Regions from separate parts of the Homo sapiens genome. Here region 1 is linked to region 2. The links come from fine-mapping of genetic effects on gene expression. A gene starts in region 2. The other region holds a variant in brackets. All regions are shown on one strand. Distances are from middle to middle.

The links. PIP is the estimated chance that this variant, and not a neighbour inherited with it, causes the effect. A credible set is the group of variants that fine-mapping cannot tell apart.
Region 1: its variant is the best candidate, but not a certain one, in a credible set for the expression of ARL2 in whole blood (TOPMed, PIP 0.77).

Annotation. Positions count from the first base shown.
Region 1 is chr11:64,948,423-64,952,422 of GRCh38, forward strand. It overlaps MAJIN (membrane anchored junction protein), which reads right to left. Exons shown (of 11, transcript NM_001037225.3): 5 at 1,933-2,008; 6 at 1,321-1,446. Among named protein-coding and RNA genes, the nearest start is that of GPHA2, 15 kb to the left of the region's middle. The variant T/G (reference allele first, on the strand shown) is at 2,083.
Region 2 is chr11:65,011,605-65,016,125 of GRCh38, forward strand. It overlaps ARL2 (ARF like GTPase 2), which reads left to right and starts at 2,556. Exons shown (of 5, transcript NM_001667.4): 1 at 2,556-2,668. The coding sequence starts at 2,604. ARL2-SNX15 (ARL2-SNX15 readthrough (NMD candidate)) reads left to right here and starts at 2,556. Exons shown (of 11, transcript NR_037650.2): 1 at 2,556-2,668. RefSeq lists a silencer at 2,403-3,162.

The DNA of each region.
Region 1 (4,000 bases), 63 kb before region 2:
CACCCCTTTTCTTTTCTTTCTTTTTTGAGACAGAGCTAGCTCTGTTGCCCAGGCAGAAGTGCAGTGGTGTGATCTTGGCTCACCAGAACCTCTGCCTCCCAGGTTCAAGCAATTCTCCTCCCTCAGCCTCCAGAGTAGCTGGGACTACAGGCATGCACCACCACCATGTCGGGCTACATCATATATATATATATATATATATATATATATATATATATTTTTTTTTTTTTTTTTTTTTTTTTTTTTTTTTTTCAGATGGCATCTTGCTCTGCCGCCCAGGCTGGAGTGCAGGGGCGTGATCTCAGCTCACTGCAATCTCTGCCTCCCGGGTTCAAGCGATTCTTCTGTTTCAGCTTCCTGAGTAGCTGGGATTAGAGGCGCACACCACCACGCCTGGCTAAATTTATTTTTAGTAGAAATGGGGTTTCACCACGTTGGTCAGGCTGGTCTTGAACTCCTGGCCTCAAGTGATCCTCTTGCCTCGGCCTCCCAAAGTACTGGGATTACAGGCATAAGCCACCATGCCCAGCCTGCACCCCTTTTCAAATCAAAAGGGTAGGTGTTTACTTGTCCCTCAATCAACAAAAACACCCATGGCCTTCAGAGAATAAAAATTTGGGCTAGGCACAGTGGCTCATGCCTGTAATCCCAGTGTTTTGGGAGGCCGAGGTGGGAGGATCGCTTGAGCCCAGGAGTTTGAGACCCAACGGTGCAATATAGTCAGACCCCTGTCTCTACTAAAAAAAAAAAAAAAAAAATTAGCCGGGGATGGTCGCACACACCTATAGTCCTAGCTACTTGGGAAGCTGAGGCAGGAGGATCACTTGAGCCCAGGAGTTAGAGGTTACAGTGAACTATGATCACACCACTGTACTCCAGCCTGGGTGACAGAGTGAGACCCTGTCTAAATAAAAATAAAATTGGGAGATACCTTTAAGATAGCTCTAAAGTGAAAATCATAGAATTCTCTCTAATGGAAGGGTTTATATAATAGTTATCTTTCATTCAGTGATTAAGTCAGGCTTTGTACTTTTCATCTACTACTATTTAATCCTTTTAACAACTCAATGATATAGGTAGTAATATTATTCTTCACCATTTCACAAGGGAGGCATAGAAAGATTAATTTATCTAACTTCACACAGCCATTAAGTGGCAGGACCACCAGTATTTGAACCGGTCAGTCTGGCCTGGAGCACATGATCCTGACCTGTGCACTGTATGGCTGGAGCCTAATCTGGTAGCCCCTTTCGCGATACCTAGCTGGCACAGCTAAACCATTTTCTTCTCTGCCATCCACATTCACATCATTCCACTTACCAGGTGACAGGTTTTCATGGAACCATTTCATCTCCACATATAGAGTAAAAACAAATGGGTAGGGGATCAAGATAATTTCCCCATGTTTGAATTTCAGGTGGGAAACTCTCTCCCATTTGCTTTTATCTGGAAAATGGTGCTAAGGAGTAAGGAAAGATGCCAGTATGCATTCCTAAGTACTATTTTAGGGATGAGACTCTCTCTCCTTCCCCTGACCTACCCTCCAAACTGCCTATGGTTTTGCTACGTCCATTTGAGTCTAAAATGTGAGCTGTAGCTCATTTCCAGCCAGAAAAGAAAGGATAGGCTGGGCGCAGTGGCTCATGGCTGTAATCCCAGCACTTTGGGAGGCCGAGGCGGGTGGATCACCTGAGGTCAGGAGTTCAAGACCAGCCTGGCCAACATGGTGAAATAGCGCCTCTACTAAAAATACCAAAATTAGCCGGGTGTGGTGGCATGTGCCTGTAATCCCAGCTACTGGAGAGGCTGAGGCAAGAGAATCGCTTGAACCTGGGAGGCTGAGGTTGCAGTGAGCCAAGATCATGCCATTGCACTCCAGCCTGGGTGACAGAGCAAGACTCCATCTCAAAAAAAAAAAAAAAAAAAGGATACAGGGAAATACAATGAAGTGTTCTGTAGCAAAGGGCTGAAGATTGTCCAAGTTTCCCAAGACCACGCGGACAGAATCCTGAAAAACATATTTGAAATGACTTTAACACTGTTGAGTCTCAGCCAGTCTTTGTTTATATTTGTCACTGCTAC[T/G]CACATACCCTATACACTATCAAAACTGAACTATTTGCTGTTCCTTTAACACGTGTTCTGATTCTCCATTTCTTTTTCTTTCTTTCTTTCTTTTTTTGAGAGAGTCGTGCTTTGTGGCCCAGGCTGAAGGGCAGTTGCATGATCTCTGCTCACTGCAATCTCTGCCTCCTGGGCTCAAGTGATCTTCCCACCTCAGCCTCCCCAGTAACTGGGACTACAGGCGTGCACCACCACACCCATCTAATTTTTTTATTTTTTGTAGAGATGTGGTTTCACCATGTTGCCCAGGATGGTCTTGAACTCCTGGGCTCAAGTGCTCTGCCCTCCTCGGTCTCCCAAAGTGCTGGGATTACAGGCATGAGCCACTGCACCCAGCCCGCTTCTCCATTTCTATGCTTTTGCATAGAAAGGGAATTTCTCTTCCTGAAATGCCCTTTCCACCCATCAGCACTTGTCCAAATCCGACCTATCCTTTCAGGCATAGTTCAAAAGGCATCTCCTCCAGAAATCTTTCCCTGATTTACCAAGTTATAATTGTTAGTATCAAACTTCACAGTAGTTAGCCTGGAGTCTTTACTACATTCCACATACAAATGTTTTATATTCCTTACTGGGAGATCTACTTGAAGTAGAATATACACCTGACTTATCTTAGTATCCCTTCTATGGTGTCTACCATCATGAATAATGCATAACAAGTCCTCACTAAATGTACATTGAATGAATGAATAATACTGGTATTAACTGATATACAGTATTTTGCTTTTGTTTAAGTCAAACCTTTTTTTCACTCACTTTAAATTTTAATCGATTAGTCCCTAATTAAGCTATATGCTTATTAGTCTATACTAATTAATTTGGCATCATAAAGACTACTAAATTTCTGTGGGGAAAAAAGTCTCAATTTCAATCCCAGCCTTGTCATTTCACCCTAAGCTTCAGTGTTCTCATGTTTGTGTTCAAAGAAGATAGAAACTGTGGCCAGCGCAGTGGCTCATGCCTGTCATCCCAGCACTCTGCGAGGCCAAGGCAGGTGGACTGCTTGAGCCCGGGAGTTCAAGACTGGCCTGGGCAACATGGCAATACTCCATCTCTACAAAAAATACAAAAATGAGTTGGGTGTGGTGGCACACGCCAGTAGTCCCAGCTACTTGTGAGGCTGAGGTGGGAGGGTCACCTGAACCTGGGAGGTCGAGGCTGCAGTGAGCTATGATTGCATCACTGCCCTGTAGCCTAGGCAACAGAGCAAAACCTTGTCTCAAAAAAAAAAAAAAAAAAAAAAGATATTGTGTCTTGTTTATCTTTGTATTCTCCATAGTAGCACAGTGTCTAGCTTATAATTATACTGGCTAATATTTATTGAGTAATTACTATGGGAAGTGTTACTGTTTTTTGTTTTTTTGAGACAGAATCTCGTTGTGTCACCCAGGCTGGAGTGCAGCCGCACAATCTTGGCTCACTGCAACCTCCACCTCCTGGGTTCAAGCAGTGCTGTGCCTCAACCTCCCAAGTAGCTAGGATTATAGGCACACACCACCACGCCCAGCTAATTTTTTGTATTTTTAGTAGAGATGGGGTTTCGCCATGTTGTCCAGGCAGGTCTCAAATCCCTGAGCTCAGGCAATCTGCCCACCTTGGCCTCCCAAAGTGCTAGGATTACAGGCATGAGCGACCACGCCCGGCCTTTTTTTTTGAGATGAAGTTTTGTTCTTCTTGCCCAGGCTGGAGTCTGGAGTGCAATGGCTTGGTCTCCGCTCACTGCAACCTCTGCCTCCAGGGTTCAAGCGATTCTCCTGCCTCAGCCTCCCAAGTAGCTGGGATTACAGGTGCCTGCCACCACACCTGGCTAACTTTTGTATTTTTGGTAGAGATGGGGTTTCACTATGTTGGCCAGGCTGGTCACAAACTCCTGACCTCA
Region 2 (4,521 bases):
ACAAATGTTTCACCAAACGCTACTTAGCTTTACTACGTGGGTAAAGGTAGTAATGTTTTCAGTTCTGTTCATTCTATTTCATTTTTGTTAATGCTACTAGGTTGAACCATTTGAAATACATCTGTGTATCAAAACTGTCAAATATGGGCAATTTCATACAGTTCAACCTATTTGTGACACTAATTTTACAATCCACTTCCTTAATGGAATGCATCTCATAGATTAAAAAACATTGCTAAGTGGGCATATTTCCAGTTAATATTATTTTTAAAACTAAAAGAGGACTGAATTTTTGTTTTTGTTTTTCATTTAATATGGCGCGGACATCTTTCCACACTGGTATCTTACAGCTCCACCTCACTGTTTTCTGTTTCTTTGAGACGGTCTAACTCTGTCATGAAAGCTAGAGTGCAGTGGCATGATCACGGCTCACTGCAGCCTTATCCTCCCTGGTTCCCACCTTGGCCTCCTAGGTAGCTGGAACTACCGATGTGCACCACTACACCTAATTTTTTTTTTTTTTTTTGAGACAGACAATTTCGCCCAGGCTGGAGTGCAGTGGCACAATTTCAGCTCACTGCAACCTTCGCCTCCTGGGTTGAAGTGAGCATGTCTGGCTAATTTTTGTATTTTTTATAGAGATGGGAGTCTCCCTAAGTTGGCCAGGCTGGTCTTGAACTCCTGGGCTCAAGCAATCCACTCACCTCTGCCTTCCAAAGTGCTGGGATTAGACATGAGCCACTGCGCCTGGCCCACTTCACTGTTTTAAGGGCTTCATGAATTCACATGCACCTACCCCGGCTCAGGTAACCTGCCCTCACTGGAGGCACTTAGGTTTTTTCCAATTTCTTGCTGTTCCAAACCATGCCACAGTGAACTTCGTTGTTCCTGTGCAGTGCCAGAATGTCTGTGGTGCAGGCTCCTAGAAGCAGGATGGCAGGCTCCTACCTCTAGACATTTCTTTTTTTTTTTTTTTTTTTTTTTTGAGACGGAGTCTCACTCTGTCACCCAGTCTGGAGTGCAGTGGCACAATCTCGGCTCACTGCAACCTCCGTCTCCTGGGTTCAAGCAATTCTCTGCCTCAGCCTCCCGAATAGCTGGGATTACAGGTGCCGCCACCACGCCCAGCTAATTTTTTGTATTCTTAGTAGAGACGGGGTTTCACCATGTTGGCCAGGCTGGTCTTGAACTCCTGACCTCGTGATCCACCTGCCTCGGCCTCCCAAAGTGCTGGGTTTACAGGCGTGAGCCATGGCGCCCGGCCAGCATTTCCCATTTTGATCTTAGCTGCATTTCGAAGCCTCTGGGTAGGCGATATGCTCACTTTCTTCCTTGTGTGTGTGTGATGGAGGGTAAATGGTGCTGACCGAAGGGTCCCACTCAGGCAGCCTATCTGTTCAGCCCTCCTCTGACCACAAGCCCCTTTCTGCAAGATGGGAAGCTCCAGCTTCTTCCAGACCTCTCTCTAGGCAAACTTCATGGAGGCATGAAGACATTGTGCTTTACCATTTACTAGACCTGAGTTTGAATCTCACCCATGCTCCTTAAACACTCTGGATTCCATTATCATAGCTACGAAAAGAATATAAACCTCTCAGGGTTGCAGGGAGGATGAAGCTGAACACGTGAAGTGCGTTGCAAACAGTTACACAGGAGTTAGCTATTGTCCTCAGCTGGTGCTGACAGCTCTTTCCCAAGCATGAGAGAGGCTCTTCCGTGCTGCCTATCCACACTTACCTGCAGCAATAAGGCTGTCTCCTGAGTTTACAAAAGGGCTTGGTCCTTGACCTATTTCCTCACTTCTTCTGGACTTCTTGAGCGCTAAAGTAAAGAATGAAACTCTTGGACAAAGCCATTCATTCAACAACAAATATTTATTGAGCACCTACTACATGCCAGCCACTGTGCTAAGCACCATCTGGGCCTCAGTTTTTCCATCTGCAAAAGTAGGAACTGTGCTTCTGAACAGGGAAACGCTGGGCCTCTGGGTGGGGGCAGCCTTTGGGGCGGGACTGCAATTCCGTCATTGGAACCCAGGGACGCCCCGCATGTTTCCGAACGGCCTCCAGGGGGCACCGCCGCCCTGAACTGAGAGCCACCGGAGCCGGGTAGGGGGAGGCCCAACTTTCCGCTCTGTCAGAGGATGATGCCGAGGGCCCAGATGAGCAGGATTTGGACTGTGTTGCTGGGAACGGGGGCCTACACTGGCCCCAGGATGAGTTCGTCCGTACCTGGGGGCCCTGGGTTCTGACTCTCAGGTCAGACGCAGCCAAGATGCAACTCAGGAACTTCAAGGTTTCCGCTCCGGCCAAGAGCCCCAGTCCGGCAGGGGAAAGGGTGGGGGAGTCGCCCTTGCTCCCCCAGCCTCAGCCCTCGGGAGGCGCAGCGTCAGGGCGGGCGGCAGCACAGAAACCCCCCGCGCCGCTAGAGGGACCCTCGCAGCAGCTGCGCGGGCGACCTCGCGGTCACGTGCGGCAAGGGCGGGACCAAACGAGCGTCCGGCCAATCGACTATGCCGTCGGCGAGCGTGATAGCCAACAGGAACCGGGAGCGGGGTCCCGGGACTGGGAAGAAACGGCGGCCGGGAGGGGGCTCCGGGGACCATGGGGCTCCTGACCATTCTGAAGAAGATGAAGCAGAAAGAGCGGGAGCTGCGACTGCTCATGCTGTATCCTACCGGACGCCGGAACCGCGAGGGTGGCGGGGTCCAGCCGGGCAGGCGGTGCCGGGCGCCCCCTGTCGGGAGCGGAACGCGGCGGCCGGCGCGTCCCAACTGCCCCTGGCGTCACCACGCGGGCCCCATCAATCGCCCCGTCGGGCCGGGAGGAGCCGCACCCCAGGACTGGGGCAGGGGCCAGCTCCGAGGGCCGCAGAAGCGGTCCTGCAGGCGCAGCGGCGGGGCTAGGCGGCCCGAGTGTCAGGGGTGGTGGGTCCCGGAGATAACTCGGACGCCACCACCCGGCGGCCTGGCCCAAGCGTGGGGCCGCTGCCCTCCCGGCTCTGATCTCCTCCCCCGGGCCCGAGGGTTCCAGGCCCCGGCCCCGCCCTCGAGCTCCGAATCCCGGGGGCGTGCGGGGTGGCGGGTGGCGCGTGTGGGCTCCGCGGATCCTTTCGAGCGTGGATCCAACAGTCCGTCTCTTTGGTGTTACGCGGCCCGTGGTTGTCCCTGCGGCTGAGGATGTGTGTGTGTGGGCCCGAGTGTCCCGTGCGCCCTGTGCGCCTTCTGAGTCCAGTTAGGCGCCCGCACCTGTTCCCCCAGCTCTGTGCCAGGCTCCGCGGGGGAATGGCTGGGGAGATAAGACGCTTACGTGCACATATAACTTAATAATCACATCATGACTGTTTTGTTTTTTGAGACAGGGTCTTGCTCTGTTGCCCTGGCTGGAGTGCAGTGGCACAATCAAGGCTCACCGCAGCCTCCAGCTTCTAGGCTTAAGTGATCCTCCTGCCTCAGCCTCCCAAAACTCTGGGAATATAGGCATGAGCCACGGAGTCCGGCCCATGTCTGTTTTATTTTGTTTTGTTTGAGACGGAGTTTCGCTCTTGTTGCCCAGGCTGGAGTGCAGTGGCACAATCTCAGCTCGCTGCAACCTCCGCCCCCCGAGTTCAAGCAATTCTCCTGCCTCAGCCTCCCAAGTAGCTGGGATTACAGGTGCCCGCCACCACGCCCGGCTATTTTTTTAAATATTGTTAGTAGAGACGGGGTTTCACCTTGTTGGTCAGGCTGTTCTCGAATTCCTGACCTCAAGTGATCCACCCGCCTTGGCCTCCCAAACTGTTGGGATTATGGGCGTGAGCCACTGCGCCGGGCCGCATGTCTGCTTTAAAGAGCTCTAAGAAAAGCATACAGTTCACTCATTTGATAAATATTGAGTGCCTAATATGTGCTAGACACTGTCCTAGTGCCCAGGGTAATAAAACTAAAAAATCTTACCTTCATGGAAATTCTGTAATGCGTGTGTGTGTGTGTGGCGGGGGGGTTGCCCGCGGGTAGAAAGATGATAACACAGGAAGTAAGTAAAATATGTAATAGAGGCTGGGTGCGGTGGCACACACCTGTAACCCTAGCACTTTGGGAGGCTGAGGTGGGAGGTTCGCTTGAGCCCAGGTGTTTGAGACCAGCCTGGGCAACATAGTGAGACTCTGTCTCTATTTATACATATATATATTCTCCATACATACTATATATATATGGGCCATGCTTTGGACCATGCTTCTGGGGAACAGGGCCTTATACTGCTCCAGGATGAACTCCCACTACGTATATAGGTATGGAGAATAATGCAATTTAGGGTGGTCAAAGAAGGCCACTGTATGATGGCAGGGCGCAGTGGCTCATGCCTGTAATCCCAGCACTTTGAAAGGCCGGGGCGGATGGATCGCCTGATGTCAGGAGTTTTGAGACCAGTCTGGCCAACATGGTGAAATCCCGTCTCTACTGAAAATACAAAAATTAGCTGGATGTGGTGGTGGACACCTTTAATCCCAGCTACCTGGGAGGCTGAGGCAAGAGAATTGCCA